Linked DNA regions of Homo sapiens: region 1 is linked to region 2. A link means that fine-mapping ties the variant in region 2 to the expression of a gene that starts in the linked region. Tissue or cell type: tibial nerve. Region 2 holds a variant in brackets; the other region holds the start of a gene. All regions are shown on one strand. Distances are between the middles of the regions.

Region 1 (8,162 bases), 250 kb before region 2:
AAGAATTAACCGTCCCTTTAAATTTGTTTTAAATATTTTTAAGGTTTAAAAAGGGTTTAAAGTTTGTAATTCCTAGTAGGAAAATATTATCTGAATGAATACCCTAATGGCAAACCATGGTAAATGCTTCAGCTGCATTTGGGGGAGAGGGATATGGATTATCTTCAAAGCACCCCTGAGGTACGCTGGTTTGTATTATTGCAACATCCATAAGGTGATCTAGGTTGCTTTTCCTTCAGCACGGTCTTTATCAGAAGGACATTACTCTTGACCTCCAAATTTGGCTGACAATTTACTGATAAGATTCATAACCTTTGGGTTGCCCTGGTATTGTGACATATTTGCTGGGTTTTGAGCCACATCCTGGAAGAGGCCACCATAACTTTGGGATCCTGCACGGCTGCAAGAACCTCTGGATCACTAAGAATTTCATTGAGTCCAGTTATTCCGGCCATCCCAGGCATGCCCCCTCTCATTCCAAGCATTCCCCCAGGAAGTCCATCTGGAAAAGAGCCATACTGAGCTACTGACTGTCGTCTGGCTTCTTCCTCCCTCTGGGCTCTCTCTTGCTCTTCTCGAGCCTTCTTAACTCTTTCTATTCTTTCTTTGATCTCTCGCTCTTCACGTTTTTGCTCATACTTTCTCTGATGTTCCGCAATGTCTGTGCCCTAGGCTGAACTTCTTTCAGCATTGCACTAGCATCTTCATCATAATCCAATTTACAGGCAAGGGCAAGATCATGGGCTGCTCCTTCCCAGTGGCCTAGAAGTCTGTGTGCTTTACCTCGCCACTTGTAAGGCTGAGCTGAAATAAATTTCAACGGCTCTGTCACAGTCTCGGATGGCAGCATTTGGCTTCTGTAATTTGATGAAGACACTGGCCCTCTTGGCATACAAAATGGCCAACTGAGGATTCAGCTTGATGGCATCTGTGAATAAGTCAATGGCTTTCTGCAGTTCACCATCATTTAGGGCTTCAATAGCAGCCACTTTCTTATGATTTGCCTGATCCATCATCTCCTCTGTTATCTCTGCATTTTCATCTCCCATTTCTTGAGGGGCATCAGGGTCTGGTTCAATCACATCTTCATTATCAATTAATAGATTACTTTCCTCACTTGATGGTTCGTCTGCCTTTAAGTCTTCCTCCACCTTCTTACTATCAGGTTTTTCTTCCTTGGTATTTTCTTCTGATTTAACTTTCTGAGTAGCAGGTGATAGTTTACCCCCCATGCTCTCCACCCACTCCCTCAGGAAGTGCATTTCCTTGGTGTGCAGAACGCTCAGATCCTGCTTACACATTTTCACAAAAGCCCGAAGTGCATTCACTTTGTGGGGGTCCATGGTCGGGAGGCGGTGGACGAAGCTGAGGGGCCGTGGCCCGGTTCCAGGCCTAGGCACTGGCTCAGTGTGACTGCGCAGAAGGGGGCACCTATTTATTTTTTAAATGTCCTTATTTAACAAAATGAAAACGTAGCACCTATCTAGGTGCCTAAAATCCAAAGTTTTGAAACCAGAGATCTAAAAAGATTTAGTTTGCATCGTAACTTCCAGAAATGCCTTGCATTACTGTGGCAAAAAGCAGGAATTGCTAGCATTTAAGTAGGAGTAGGGAGGTTACGTCTCAAGAAGGGTGTTCAAGGACCCCTTTCTCACTGAGTAGGAGGTCAGATCTTTTAAGCTTCTCTTCCCAACATTAGAATCAGTCATCCCCCCAAAATTGGACATTTATTTCAGTCACTTTTAGGGAGAGATCAGTGTTGAGGGCACTTAGTGGTAGAGTGAGAGCAGGGGTTGGTGGGTGAGAAAGTGAAACTGGACAAGAGAAGTTGGGACTCAGAGCTTCCCAGTCCCCAAACAGAAGAGGAACTGGGAAGGTATTTCCAGCTGCGGAAGAGGAAGGTTTGGACACTCTCTTTACATGGCTAGTGTGGCTTCTTCCTTTGAGAGGAAAGAATTCTCTGCTTGAGAGGAAACCCACTGCAGGAACCTGAAGAGAACTAAGCCCACCTAGGTCAGTAACTGGAAACAAGTGGCTCTTCCTCTGTCCTGCATAGCTACACTTAGAAATTTCATGGAAAGGTGTGACATTTTATCAAGACATTTGGCTGCATTGCTCCTGCTGTTTAACCAGAGGATTCAGCAGCAAACAAAATAAGACAAAACAAAACAAAAAAACCAGGACGGTTTAATGAGTGGGACATGAATTGGAACAGGCAGGATGAACTGTGGGTTCCTGTGGTGGTCTGACAAGGATGTGACGAGGACACCTTTCCAGGGGCAAAGTCAAGGCCATGTGCTCTCACAGGAAATTCCCTTCGGTTAAGTTCCTGAAGAGTGTATTGATTTTCTGATACCCTGCCTTATTCAGGTAGGACTTAAAGCAGCTTACAGGAAAACAAGATTTAAAATGTAAGAAGTTAAGGATATAGGGAAAAGAAAGGTAGAGCAGAATGATAAGAGAAAGGTGGGGTTTGTGATCGTGGGAATTTCCGTGCTGGCATCTCCGTGTTGGTTCTGTTGTTGCAGGTACTGGGAGGAGGAGATGAACCCTGCTCCTGTGGAGGCTATGAGGTATTGATGTCGTGTACACATCCAAGGGGTGGTCTAATTATTTACAACTAGGCTCCTGAAAATCAGCCCTGAATCCAGCTTTCTACCTTCTCTTTTCAATATCATTTAATTAATTGAGTCACAGAAACAGCCTTTAATTCATTTAATTCCCTTACATTCTTCTAACTTCTGCCATATATCTCGTGATCTGTGATTTTTCCTTTTGCACTGATTTGATACTATGTAGTAGCAACTAAATATCGTTACTTATACCATAGCAGCTAATCTTTCTTATCAACAAAAACAAATAATGTCCACATTCCTGAAAACAATTAGGCTCTATTTCTAGCCTTGTGAACAAATGCAATTTTGTCACTTACATAATTTGTTATTGATAGAGTAACTTCAGAATTATTTGTAGTACTGCTTCCTGAGACATATAAAATCATATTAATGATTTTTAATAGCAATCAATAATAACATTTATTAAATACCCACGGTGCTTCGAATCTTTCAGTTGGTCAGTCAGCATTTATGTTCTTAATATCACTCCCAAAGCGTCATATAAACAACTTCTTTTTTTTTTTTTTGAGAGGGAGTCTCACTCTGTCACCCAGGCTGCAGTGCAATGGCACAATCTCAGCTCACTGCAACCTCCGCCTCCTGGGTTCAAGCGATTCTCCTGCCTCAGCCTCCCGAGTAGGTGGGATTATAGGCACCTGCCACCACACCGGGCTAATTTTTGTATTTTTAGTAGAGACGGGTTTTCACCATGTTGGCCAGGCTCATCTCAAACTCCTGACCTCAGGTGATCCGCCCGCCTCAGCCTCCCAAAGTGCTGGGATTACAGGCGTGAGCCACTGCACCCAGCCCATAAAAACAACTTCTAACCTCAGGAAGCCTACACTCCAATGGGAAACCAAGGGTGACCCCAGACCAATTTATGCGACTGCTTTATTTCCTTATCCACAAAGTGGGGAGAATGACAGTGCCCATCTCATAAGGCTGTTGGGAACTTTTAACGACATAATACTTGTGGAGCGTGATGGCTGGCATAGAGAAAGCACTGGATAACTGCTTGTTTTCCTTCTTCTTGTTATGATTGGAGAGATTCCGCGGAGGTGGTGCCTGGGAGCTGGCCACACCTCCCCCAGAGGGAATTTCCGAGTTTCACAGGTTTCTCTCCCTTCTGAGCAACGGCAGGTGAGTCAGGGTCGCTTGTGCTCCCCTCCAGCTCTGGGATGTATGCTGTCCAGCTGGTTACGAGTCTCCATGGCATCCGAGGAAAAGTGGAGCTGGCTGAAGGGAGGTGGAAAAGAAGGGCAACAAATTCCAGTTTCTTGTGAAACTTTGTAAACGTAAGGCTCTTATCTCAGTCTGCAGAGCAGAAACAGGGTGAGGGCCATGGATCTGAATGTCTCCACCTGTGCATAAAACATATGATTAGAGCTGAAGACCTAGAAGTCCCTTCCCCAGGCAGGGCATGAACTCTTCTGTTTCTAGAACCATTTAGGGAGGTGACAACTTGGCTTCGTCCCAGAGATTCAGGTGAGGACAGAACAGAGGGCAGGGTGTTCTTGCCCTGAGTTCCCCGCTAATGAGCTAATCCTGGCCCTTCACCTTTGTTTGGCATGAAGTTTACCAGAAAAGGGCATCCTGCCTTTATCCTTGGTTCTCTATACCCTCGCTACTTTTCCTGTGTTTTGTAAACACGGGATGGTGTATTTAGCTTTCTTTTGCTGGAATTATTTTCACCCCATGTCCTGTGTCTTCCTTGTCCAGAAGAAATCATCTTCTAGCCTAAGAGCTCCAGAGAAGGGTGTGCAGGGGACGGCCATGTTCTGATGCATGCATTCAGCTGTGTCGAACAGTCTTCCTGTTTTGCTACTGTCTGAGAATATTCTTTTCATTCTGTGGGCTCCTGGGCCTGGGCTTTCCTTGGCTTATCTCAGGAATCTGCCTCTTGGTCCCTTTCATTGGCTGCCTTCTATGTTTAGGTTTGTAGGGGAAGGCCCCTGGAAGGTGGGTGGGAGAAGAGGCACCTCTCAGGAGAGGCTGAGGCGCAAAGATGCTCTTGTCCACTCAAGTCCATATTTATTTATCTTCTAATATACTTTGTTTGTTAGTTTGTATGCTTGTTTGTTTTGAGGGTCTCCTTCTGTTACCCAGCCTAGAGTGCAGTGGTGCCATCATGGCTCACTGCAACCTCAATCTCCGAGCTCAATTGATCCGCTTGCCTCAGCCTCCTGAGTAGCCAGGACTACAGGTGAATGCCACCATGCCTGGCTAATTTTTTTTTTTTTTTTTTGTAGAGGGTTTTTTCCTGTTGCCCAGGCTGGTCTCAAACTCCTGGTCCCAAGTGATCCGCCTGCCTTAGCCTCCCAAAATGCTGGGATCACAGATGTGAGCCACCCTGCCTGGCCTTCTAATATAATTTGGATATTCCATGGATATTCCCACCTTGATCTACATTAGGAACTTCCTGGAGGCTTGTGCTCAAGAGAGGTAGTATCTGCTTGCTCAGCAAGCAGAGGCTGAGTAAGTGCAGGACTCTGAATATGGTTGTGCAGCAGAGTTGTGGGTATTTGTGGGGACGTTGACCTCAGGCCCAGCATTTAGATTTAGCTAGCAGACATGCCTGGGCAGCTAAACTGGCAATGTCAGACCAAACTGCCTGGCCTGATATTGCCAGGCAGTTTAGCGTATCAGGGCTCTGCTTAGAAGCCACAATGCCAAGGCCTCATGACCATATTCTTCCACCCTTGAGAATCTTGTCCACCTTCATATCCCTCCATTCCTCACGCATCATGTCCTGGGTGGGTGCCCTGACACCTCATTCTCACCTCCATCTCCTTGCTCACTCATGTTTTCCAGGTTGTACTTGAGAGAGCCTAGGCCTTAGCGGTAGAGTTGGTTTCAAGTTGCTGCCCTCCCATCCCCTGGAATGTAACTGGCTTTCTGGGACTTAGTTTTTTTCATTTGTAATGCCTGCCTTGTAGTCCCATTGTGAAAATTAATCAATAATTTGTTTTGAGGGTCCAATATGTGGCAGGCATTGTGGTAAGCTTTAGGGCAGGGGCATAAAGACCAGTTAAGATTTCTCCTTTTTAAAACTTTTATTTTTTTGTAGAGATGGAGTCTTGCTATGTTGCCCAGGCTGATCTTGAACTCTTGGCCTCAAGTAATCCTCCTACCTGGGCCTCCCAAAGGAATTACAGAATGAGCCACCATGCCTGGCTTATCCCTCTTTTTGAATAGCTTTTGGTTAGTGTTAAGAGGCAGGTTCATAAACATAATTTCAAAATAATGCGTAAATGCTAAGATAGAGGTAAGCCTTAGGAGTACAAAAGAAGGGAAAGAATGCTTTTTGGGTAAATGGTGGATGAGCTGGTTTTCTTTCTCTTTCTTTCTTTCTTTCTTTCTTTCTTTCTTTCTTTCTTTCTTTCTTTCTTTCTTTCCTTCTTCCTTCCTTCCTTCCTTCCTTCCTTCCTTCCTTCCTTCCTTCCTTTCTTTCCTTCCTTCCTTCCTTCCCCCCTCTCTCTCTCTCTTTCTTTCTTTCTTCTCTCTCTCTCTCTCTGGAGTTCAGTGGCGTGAATCATAGTTCACTGCAGTCTTAAACTTCTGGCCTCAAGCAATCCTCCTGCCTCAGCCTCCCAAAGCACTGAGATTACAGGTGTGAGTCACTGCAGCCATCCTGGATGAACTGTTTTGAAGGATAGGGGTAGGTTGGGGTGAATGTTCCTGGAAGAGAGAAGTGTGGAATTACAAAACAGTGTGATGTGAGCAGGGAACAATGAAAAGGTAATGTTCAAGAAAAAGAGTGACAGATGCTGTTGCTGGCAAGTAAATAGGGGCCAAGTCATGCTAGGTCTTATAGGTCATGCTAAGCATTTTGAATTCTATCTGTAGGCAACAGAGTTTTATTTTTATTTGTTTATTATTTTTATTTTTTTCACCCGGAGGTGAAACAATTTTATTTCACAGTTGCCTTTAAAACCTCAAAGATACTATTTTCTTCATATAAAAATATTAGTACTGGGGGGAGAGGCCAAGATGGCCAACTAGAAACATCTGTGGTCAGAGGCTCCCACTGGGAGGAACCAAAATGGCAAGTGAATCCTGCACCAGCAACCAGGGTATCCAGGTTCTCTCACTGGGACTGACTAAGCAGTTGATGTGACCCATGAAGAGTGAAGAAAAGCCGGGTGGTGCGACGGCCCACCTGGGAGCCACACGGGGAAAGGGCAGCTCCCACCCCAAGCCAAGGGAGGTGGTTAGTGATCATGCTACCCTGCTAGAAAACCGTACTTTTTCCACGGATCTGCGCAACCCACAGATCAGGAGATCCCACTTTTGAGCTACACTACCAGGGCCTTGGGTCCCAAGCACAGAGCTGTGCAGATTCTCAGCAGCCACTTGACTGGAGACTGCCTAAGACCCCAGTCAAGTGGCTGCTGAGAATCTGCACAGCTCTGTTAAGTTAACTCTGCACAGCTTTGTTAACAGCTCTGTTCTGTTAACTCTGCTAAGAGTTTCCAGGGGGGTGGGGGCAGCCATTATCACTGCAGCTGCCTGCTGCCTAAGATGACTGAGCTCCCCTGAGTTGGGGTGGTGGCCATCATTGCAGCTCATGTCTGCCATTTTTCCCCTGGTGGTTTCATCTAAGCTCATAAGGGAAAGGAATGAGTGGAAGATGTAGGGGAGCTCACTCAGCAGTGGAAGTTTTAAGTGGCAGAGAGGGAAGGTTTGCGATGGAGAGAATAGTGAGAACGGGAGGAGGAGGTTGGAGGAATGTTCTGTGGAGGACAAATGGTGAGACGGGCTTTCTCTGAGGACAATGGTTGTGGTGTGACTAGACTGGCTGGTCCCAAGGGTCCAAAGGGAAGCCACTAGCCTATTAGGGCTGGGCTGGAGCGTACAGGTTCTGGATCTGTAGGTCAGAGGTGGGGGGGTCCAGGAACATGCATTTTTTTTTTTTTGAGATAAGGTTACACTCTATGGCTCAGGATGGAGTGCGGTGATGCAATCACAGCTCACTGCATCCTCGACCTCCCCGGATTCAGGTGATCCTCCTGCCTCAACCTCCCTATAGCTGGGACTATAGGCATGCACCACCACACCTGGCCAGTTTTTGTATTTTTTGTAGAGATGGGATTTCATCATGTTGCCCAGGCTGGTCTTGAACTCCTGGGCTTAACTGACCCACCTGCCTTGGCCTCCCAAAGTTCTGGGATTACAGGCATGAGCCACCACACCCAGCCAGGAACATGCATTTTTAATAAGCAACCTGTGACAGTGATGCAGATGCTGAAGGCCCCACAAGATGCTTATTTAAAATGCATTTTCCTGGACCCCACTCCAGATTTAGGAGCCATAACTTTTTGTGTCATTTTAACCAGCTCCAAGGTGATTCTTATGTGCCCTCGAGTTTGAGCTCCCTGGCTGGAAGTCTTCGTGGTCTTGGGCACATAGTGTTAGGTGGCATTCACTGAGGTAATGTAGGTACAACACCTAGTACAGGGTCTGTCTGGTCAATGACAGTTATAATGCACACTGGGACCCTTGGTGACATTGGTGGCTTACAGGAGGGTATGCAGGTCCAGTTCATTC
Region 2 (8,198 bases):
AAAACCAAACAAAGAAATAAAAATGGGAACAATAGACACTGGGGACTATTAGAGGGGTGATATGATTTGGCTTGGTGTCCCCACCCAAGTCACATCTTGAATGGCAATCCCCACCTGTTGAAGGAGGGACCTGTAATCCAAACGCGTGAAGGGAGGCAGGTGATTGGATTATGGGGGCGGTTTCCCCCATGCTGTTCTTGTAATGAGTGAGGTTTTTTTGTTTGTATGGTTTTTTGTTTGTTTGTCTTGAGATGGAGTCTCACTCTGTTACCCAGGCTGGAGTGCAGTGGCACGATCTCGGCTCACTGCAGCCTCTGCCTCCCAGGTTCAAGCAATTCTCCTGTCTCATTCTCCCAAGTAGCTGGGACTACAGGTGCCTGCTACCACGCCTGGGTTAACATTTGTATTTTTAGTAGGGGGGCGGGTTTTACCTTGTTGGCCAGGCTGGTCTTGAACTCCTGACCTCAGGTGATCCAACCCCCTTGGCCTCCCAAAGTGTTGGAATTACAGGCATGAGCCACCGCGCCCGGCCCCTGAGTGAGTTTTCACAAGATCTGATGGTTATAGAAGTGGTTTCCCCTGCTCTTCTCTTTCCTGCCACCTGGTGAAGAAGGTGCCTGCTTCCTCTTCTGCCATGATTAGAAGTTCCCTGAAGCCTCCCCAGCCATGCAGCTGAGAGTCAATTAAACCTCTTTCCTTTGTAAATTACCCAGTCTCAGGAAAGCTCCTCATGGCAGTGTGAAAACGGACTAGGACAAGAGGGAAAAGTAAGAGGGCTCCAGGGGCTGAAAAACTACCTATTGAGTACTATGCATACTACCTGGGTGATGGGACTCACTTGTCCCCCAAATCCCAGCATCATGCAATAAACCCATGTAACAAACCTGCACATGTGTTCCTGAATCTAAAATAAAAGTTGACTCTATATATTACATATAATATAAAATATATATAATATGAAAATACATAATATATGTAATATATATATATATATATATGCACTAAGCACTAAGAATGAAGCTTGTCATACTTTGGCTCTGATCACTATTCAGGTCAATTTGACTCAAGTCTCTTCTGTTCAAATTCAGAGTCACGTGGCTTCTCTGAAGCTCAGCCTTGCTGGGGACAGGGCTGGTACCAACTTTCTCTGTCATTTCTACAACAGGATCCAGCTGCATTTGGTGCTAACTGCCTCTCATTTGTTTATGAGGTAACTGCTTTCTCTCTTTTCATTTCACTCTCCCTTCCCTCCAATTTCCATTTCTTTTGTGAAATGGTTAAAGTGCTTGACATAATTAGCTGTTAATTGTTAGCAGCTGTACCCATTATCAGTTTAATGCCTAATTAATTGCAACAATTAATGCTGCCCGTCCTGTCTTAGGAACTGTTGAGGGAAGGCTGGTGTTGTTGAAGTTATATCTTAATTAATTTACCTCCAATTTTTAGCATTTAACTAAAAATCCCAAATTGGAAGCTGTTTTCCTCATATGAGTAATTGATGAGCAGAAGGTCTCAGTTCCACCCTTTGCAAGTTGAGTGTCTCTCAAAGTCAGTATCTGCAGTCAGGAAGTGGAGTTTCCAGCAGCCACCTTACTAGATGGTGGGGCCCTGTGCACAAATGTACTCTTCTCTGTAAATTTTTCTGTGCTGTATTGTTTTGAGAAAATGACAAGCCAAGAACCTCAAGAGCCAACAGCTTCTTCCACCAGACTTTGTTCAAAACTGCACTGGAGTACATATCCCATTGTAGATGACTTGTGTGGGAATCTGACCTGGGTTGAGCATCTTCATGGCAAGCCTGCCTGGGTCATGACTGCACCTCCAGCATTAGTAGGATGTTCAGTCCACTATTGAAGGGAAAACTGAGTGGATGAGTCCTAGTCTCAGCGTATCTAGCTTCTCCTGTGAGCCGGGCTTGGTGCTATATGCTTCACACACATAACATTTTTTTCCTAATTCTCAAAATAACCCTGCAATGTGGACATTATTTTCCTTTCTATCTTCTTATTTGTGGATGAGGAAACAAAGGCTTATAGAGATTATGTAACTGGCAAGTGATGGCATTATAGCTCAAGCCTACATGATTCCAATTGCAATACAGGCTTGCCACCTTACAATCTTACCTTTCTTTGAATGAATGAATAGGTGAATCTTTTGTCACTTTGTTCTGAGGTGATCCATTGACTTTTAGAGTCCTAGGACCCTACATCCCTTTGGGCAATCCCACTGTCTATCATCCTATGAAGAGGCCAATCCTCGTACGGGAGATGGAGAATGGGCCAGGTGGGCTTTTGACTTGGCAGTGGGATATAAAGGCAGGTGGCAGAGGCAAACATAAGAAACAGGTCCCTCTCTTTGGGTCTGGGGGAGTCAGGAAACTATGTATACCTCAGCTATGGGAGGTGTGCTCCAGGACTCTGTGCTGGACAGAAAGCTTGTCCTTGTAGTATGACACAGACCAGGACCTGGGTGGGGGACACCACCACTATAAGACACCACTATCGTCTTAGGGCTTCAGCTCTGAGAGGAGCTCTCCGTAACATCCAGGTGTGGTAGGCTAAAATAATGGCTCCCCAAAGATATCCATGTCCTCGTCCCTGGAACAAGTGAATATTACTTTATATGGCAAAAAAAGGCCTTTGCATATGTAATTAAGGATTTTAAGAAAAAGAGATTATCCTGGATTGGTTAGGTGGGTCCTAAAAACAATCATATGTGTCCTCCTGAGAGGGAGGAAGAGGGATATTTGACATTTAAAAAAAGGAGAAGGCAATGTGACTGTAGAGGCAGAAATTTAAGTGATGCAACCACAAGTCAAAGAATGCCAGAAGCCACCTGGAACCGGAAGAGACAAGGAAGGATTCTCCCCTAGAGCTTCTGGAGAAAGCATAACCCTGTCAGCACCTTGATTTCAGCTCAGTGATACTGGCTTCAGACTTCTGGCCTTCTAGAACTCCAGAATGAAGAGAATAAATTTCTATTGTTTTAAGTCATCAGGTTTGTGGTAATTTGTTAGGACATCCATAGAAAACGAGTATGCCAAATTTGTTTCCTTTGTTATAATATTTTTGTTATCTCTAAGTCTTCAGCAAAGTTTTGTTAAGCATTAAAAAAGACAAGAGAAAAAAATTGCGATGAGAGCTGGAGTTTCTTCAGAATTATCTGGTTGAGAAATTTCTTGGGGTACATATACAACTCATTATAATAACTTCAGGGTGGCAAATTTAGGATTAGGTCTTAATGCATATTTAAGAAAACACTCAAATACTATATAGCTTAAATAAAGGAGAAGTTTTTTTTTTTTTTTTGCATAAAACAAGTCTAGAGTTAGGCAATCCCAAGCTAGTGGGGGCAGCCAGCAACACAGAGTTGTCAGGAACCAGTTCCCTTCTAATTGCTCAAGTGTACAGTCCACATCCTCGTGGTCCAGGATGACTGCTAGAGTTCCAGGCATCACATCTGAGTTCCAGAAGCAGAATGGAGAAGGCAGAAAGAAGGGTCCACCTTCTCACTCTTAAGGAGGCTTCCAGGAAGTTTCTCACACATTTCTGCTTATGTCTCTTTGGCTAGAAATTAGTTACATGTAACACAGCTGCAATGGATGATTGGAATTGGACTGTTTTACCCAGGTGACAGTATGCCCAGCTAAAAAATTAGATCCTGTTGATGAAAAGAAGGGGAAATGGATATTTGGAGGCAACTAGCCATTTCTATCTCACCAACTATTCAAGTTCTAGACAGTGAGGGGGAGGGATATAAGTTAAATTATAATTAACTAATGTGTGGGCTTTTTTTTTTTTTAAGACCTCACCTGAAGTAGATTTTAGTTCTGATGCTGCAGTGTAGTCTAACGTTTGTTTGTGTAAAGTATCCAGGCAACCATGGATAGAATGGCTGTGGGTCTGAAAACCATAAGGAACAGGAGAGGAAACAGGTTGTTTAGGTGAAAAAGAGTTTTTTTTTTTTTATAAGGACAAAAAGATCTGTTTTTCAATAAATTCCTGTCCTATGGATGTGAAAATGAACTACATCTGTGATAAGATAGAAGGGGAATGGGGTGGAAGGGAGGCCAATTTTAGCTGAATAGGGAAAAGAAATTTCTAACAACTGAAAAGCCGGCAATGGTACAGCTGCCTCTCAGAGACGTGACTCCCTTTCTGGGCTGGGAGCTGCGGGGGTGCTGGGAGTGAGCCTAAAGCAGGGGCTGGACTGGATGACTTCCCTCTGATCACATGACTCAGTGGGGAGGCCCTCTAGGAGCTTGTCAAAGATCACAGTGGAGGACACAGCACCGTGGGGGACTGTGTCTAATTAAGAGACAAATGAATGAGGCTGTCAGGGAGAGGGAAATTTCCATGCCCCAGGGTAACAAAGCTACAGTTG[C/T]TGCTGGGCTAAGGCCTGGAGGTCTGTGCCAGCTTCCCAAAAAAAGAATGTAGGGAGTGTGGCTTAAGCTTGGTGCCCAGCCCTGAATCTGGACAGCCCAAGGTGGGAGGGGCCCAGGACAATGGGATGGCGGGGCCTCATTTTATTTGCCTCCTGCTGTGCTTAACTTGGTAGGGGCAGTTAGACAGTTCCCAGCATCTTCTGAGACAAGCCTGGCAATCCGAGGGTGTCAGGGCCAAAGATGAGGGCTGGAGGGGAGAAAAAACCTGGATCTTTTGTCTGTATCTATATGGAATTACAGACTAAAGTCTTCTGGACTTCATGCTGAAGCTTCTCCAAAAGGCTGTGACTTGGTGCATGACTGTAGGCTATTTTGTGGATGTTTGAATGATGTTAGCTCTGTTGTGGGGTAATCATAGGTCATGCACTAACAAGAGCTGCCTTTCTATCCAGAAGAAGCACAGTGGCTCTCCTTCCATGAAATGATGGCTTGTCCCCACTGTTGTGAGCATACAGAGAACAGGAAACATGTTTAAGGCTCTGTCTCAGGAACCTGTGGTGGTCTGGCCTATTTTGATTGCAAGTGGCAAAAGCCACCCCCCGAACTAGCTTGAGCAGAAAGGGAAATTTCTTGCCCCCTGTCACCAGAAGTAGATCTGGCACAGTGGGTTCAACACCTCGCACTCTGACATTGGAGCTCTCCTCTTGCTCTGCTTGGCATGGTTCTTTTTGCATATTGGCCCAGACTCTCTGACCTCAGCCAAGCAGTCACCTGGAAGAGATGGTTCGGGGAGCTTCAAACTTACAGCTTGCATTCCAGCTACCCCCAGTCACCTGGAAGAGATGGTTCAGAGAGCTCCAAACTCACAGCTTGCATTCCAGCTACCCCGTGTCTTCATCTCCCCTCTGTTCCTTAGCCAGAGGCCAGTTGTCTCCTAGACAAGTGTCCTGACCAGAGGGTCTTTGGAAACAGGAAGACCCTTAGCAGGGAGCGTGTAGAGAAGTCCCAGCATGGTTCTCAGGGTCTTCCATGCCTTCCTTCTTCAGTTCCTCAGGAGTGTGGGAAGGATAATTTGTTTATATGTGACCAGGCACCTTGCCAGTATTTCTGTCAGCAGTGCCAGGGCTCTGGAAGGGCTTAACGTGGCTGCTCCCAAGCCCTGGACAGGAGCTGCAGCCAAGGAACTCATGACATGTCTCTGAGCGGGCCTGAGCTCCTCAGTCTTTCCCGTCACCATTCCTTGTGTTGGCCTGACCTCAGAGCCCTCAAGCTCTGGACCCAGGCATGACCTCGGGCCCTTTGCTTACTGTGTGTCAGCTGCCTGAGGAGGGCCTTTGGTCTCAGCCTGTAGCTGTGGCCCCTGGAGCCTGTTTTGGAATCATCCCAACAAAGACAGCTTTGACCTCTCCCCTGGAGGAAGCTGCTTTGACAAATGCTGAGATGCTGTTTATGCCTTCTCAGGCTGGATTGCAGGGTCACAACCTGCTCCACTTGCCTAAAAAAACATAAAGTCTGAGGTTTCCTTTTGGGACAGGACCAGGGGCACAGGAATTTAAAGGGTTTGGACATATCTATTAAGCAAGAGAGATCTCAGTAAGACTTGACTTCTATGTTGCCACCATGTGTTCCCTGTGGTTTTTGCCTGTAGGAATCGGGGTTCCTCATGGTAAGCAGTTGAAGCCAATTCTGGCTGACACAGCAGGAAAGGTTTAGTAACAGGATGTTGGGTGTCTCACAGAATCAGCAGAGCCTGGGAAACCAGGCCCCAGGCTACACGTGCAGAATAATGTTCCACTACACGTGGCAGAACTGGCTTAATGAGAAAACTGCTGTGGCACCGCCACTGCCGCCAACTGGATGTTCTAATTTGTATCACAATTTGCCAGGAACATGACCATTGTCACCACTGCTGCCTTCAGTGTCCATGCCACATCTGGCCCCAGAATGTCACCTTATCATCCCAGCAGCTCCTCAGCCACCTGCTTATGTCTTAGCTGCAAAGGAGGCTGGGAAAGTGACTGTTATTGTTTCTACTTTTAGGAGGCAGGATGCATAGGATGGAAAATTCCTCTAATGTAAGAAGGGTGTTTAAAGGGGCTGGGCAGCCAGGAAACTTGACAACGGCCCACCATACCAGCTGTGTAAGGTGTGTACCGCAACTTTGAGGGGAAGCAGTTTGCATGTAACTCAAGGGTGCTGCCTGAGATGGCTGATGCAGTGACCGCATCCTCAGAGGGGAGTCATAGAGGAGGAGAGCCCTCCAGGGTCAAGTCATAAGTGAGAAACACAAGTTCCTGGTGCAGTGATGGGAGGTGGGGGCTTGCAAGGCAGTTTCAGTGACGGTGTCTGGTGTCTTTCCTTTCTGCATCTCCAGGGAAAGATGAGATTTGCTGTGAGTCACTCTAGTTGGTCCTAGCTTCCAGCCCTGGGTTGCTAGACTAGATTAGCAGACTTTCCAGAGTGTGTTTTCCTTAGAGTTGATTGAAGCAAAATGCTGGGCACCCGTCTAGGATTCACCTAGAAGGAATCAAAGGAGAAAGGCAACAGAGTCCAAAAGTGGGACTTAACCCAGCAATGTAATCTGTTTTAAAAATAACTTCTTCCTGTCACTCTCAGCAAGATGTGGCTCCCACAGAGCCTTGCTTGGGGTCTGGGCTATCCAATACCTAAAACGGGTTTCCAAAAATAAAGCTGACATTTATTGAGTGCCATGTGTCAGGCACTTTATGGAAGGCTTACACAAATTATCTGAGTTAATCCTCACAGAAACACCATGAAGTATGAGCTATTATTACCCCGTTTTACAGTTGAGGAAACTCAGGTTTAAAGAGGATAAATAACTCCACTAATGGTTAATTAACCAGTATCAGAGCTGGGATTTGAACCTTAGCAGCCTGACCTCAAAGCCCACGTTGCTAAATTGTCTCTCTAGAATCTTGAGCTAGAAAGTAACTTGACCTCCCCAACATGAGGTTTACATTCTGCTTGGCTCTTCTAGAGTTCAGTCTAAATCAAAGTTAGAAAAAGCTATGCTGGGTAGACCTATCTGTGCTAGGTCCTGCACACAAATATGTAATCTAAACTTCTGGGTGGGGCAGCCCCTTCCTTAGTCACACAGCCCATCATCCTCAGATGCTTCAATCTGAGGTCTGACTAAGTCAGCAAGTGCGAGCAAAGGGTGACCAGGGTGTTGAGCTGAGACTGCAGGCAACACCTCCCTGTAGGGGTGTGAGGCTCTCACTATCTACAGGAGAAGCAGGAAACTGCCCACATCAGCAGGAGACTCCAGATGTCTAGGGAAGAAGGAAAAGAGAGAATCATTGAAAAGGAGATAAATGGAGAACAGAGGGCTGACTGGGAAAGAATGAGGATCCCCCAGGGATGTCTCAGTGGGCTGGAGGAGTGCCCTCAGACTGGATTAGACTTCTCTCTGGACCCCCTCCCTCCACATGCTTTCTGATTGTGTCTTTGGGTGGTTGCAGCCTCTACCAGATGACTGCACATTACACAATAACAAGGGCGAGTTGTGGGATCCTCCCTGTGGTAAGTGCTCAGTGCATGTTTGTTTACTGAGATGAATAAATGAGTCCTATCCTAGGGACAGCAGGGATTTGGGAAAGTGGAGAGAAATCCAGCCTGAGGAAGGAAATCCTTAAAAAACAAAAGTCCTCTTTGAGATTAGGTTCTACGTCCAGGCTAGGCAGAGGCAGTCCTGGAGAGGTGAACACCTGGCAGGTGGCTATGCTGCCTGCTGGAGGGTCCACCACAGAGCCCTTCCCACTCCATGGAGGCTGCTCATGCTCTGTGAGCCCCT

Direction of the effects. Alleles are on the strand shown, and positions count from the first base shown. SD is a standard deviation of normalised expression in the study named.
For the expression in tibial nerve of the gene that starts at base 3,721 in region 1, T is the high allele of the variant in region 2 and C is the other (moderate effect, 0.55 SD a copy in GTEx).

What was found. PIP is the estimated chance that this variant, and not a neighbour inherited with it, causes the effect.
Region 1: LINC02762 starts here. The variant in region 2 is fine-mapped to the expression of LINC02762 in tibial nerve (GTEx, PIP above 0.99).

Annotation. Positions count from the first base shown.
Region 1 is chr11:112,267,029-112,275,190 of GRCh38, forward strand. LINC02762 (long intergenic non-protein coding RNA 2762) reads left to right here and starts at 3,721. Exons shown (of 4, transcript NR_126004.1): 1 at 3,721-3,755. It also overlaps the pseudogene ST13P10.
Region 2 is chr11:112,519,360-112,527,557 of GRCh38, forward strand. The region is part of intron 2 of LINC02763 (long intergenic non-protein coding RNA 2763); the gene reads left to right. Among named protein-coding and RNA genes, the nearest start is that of LINC02764, 32 kb to the right of the region's middle. The variant C/T (reference allele first, on the strand shown) is at 4,384.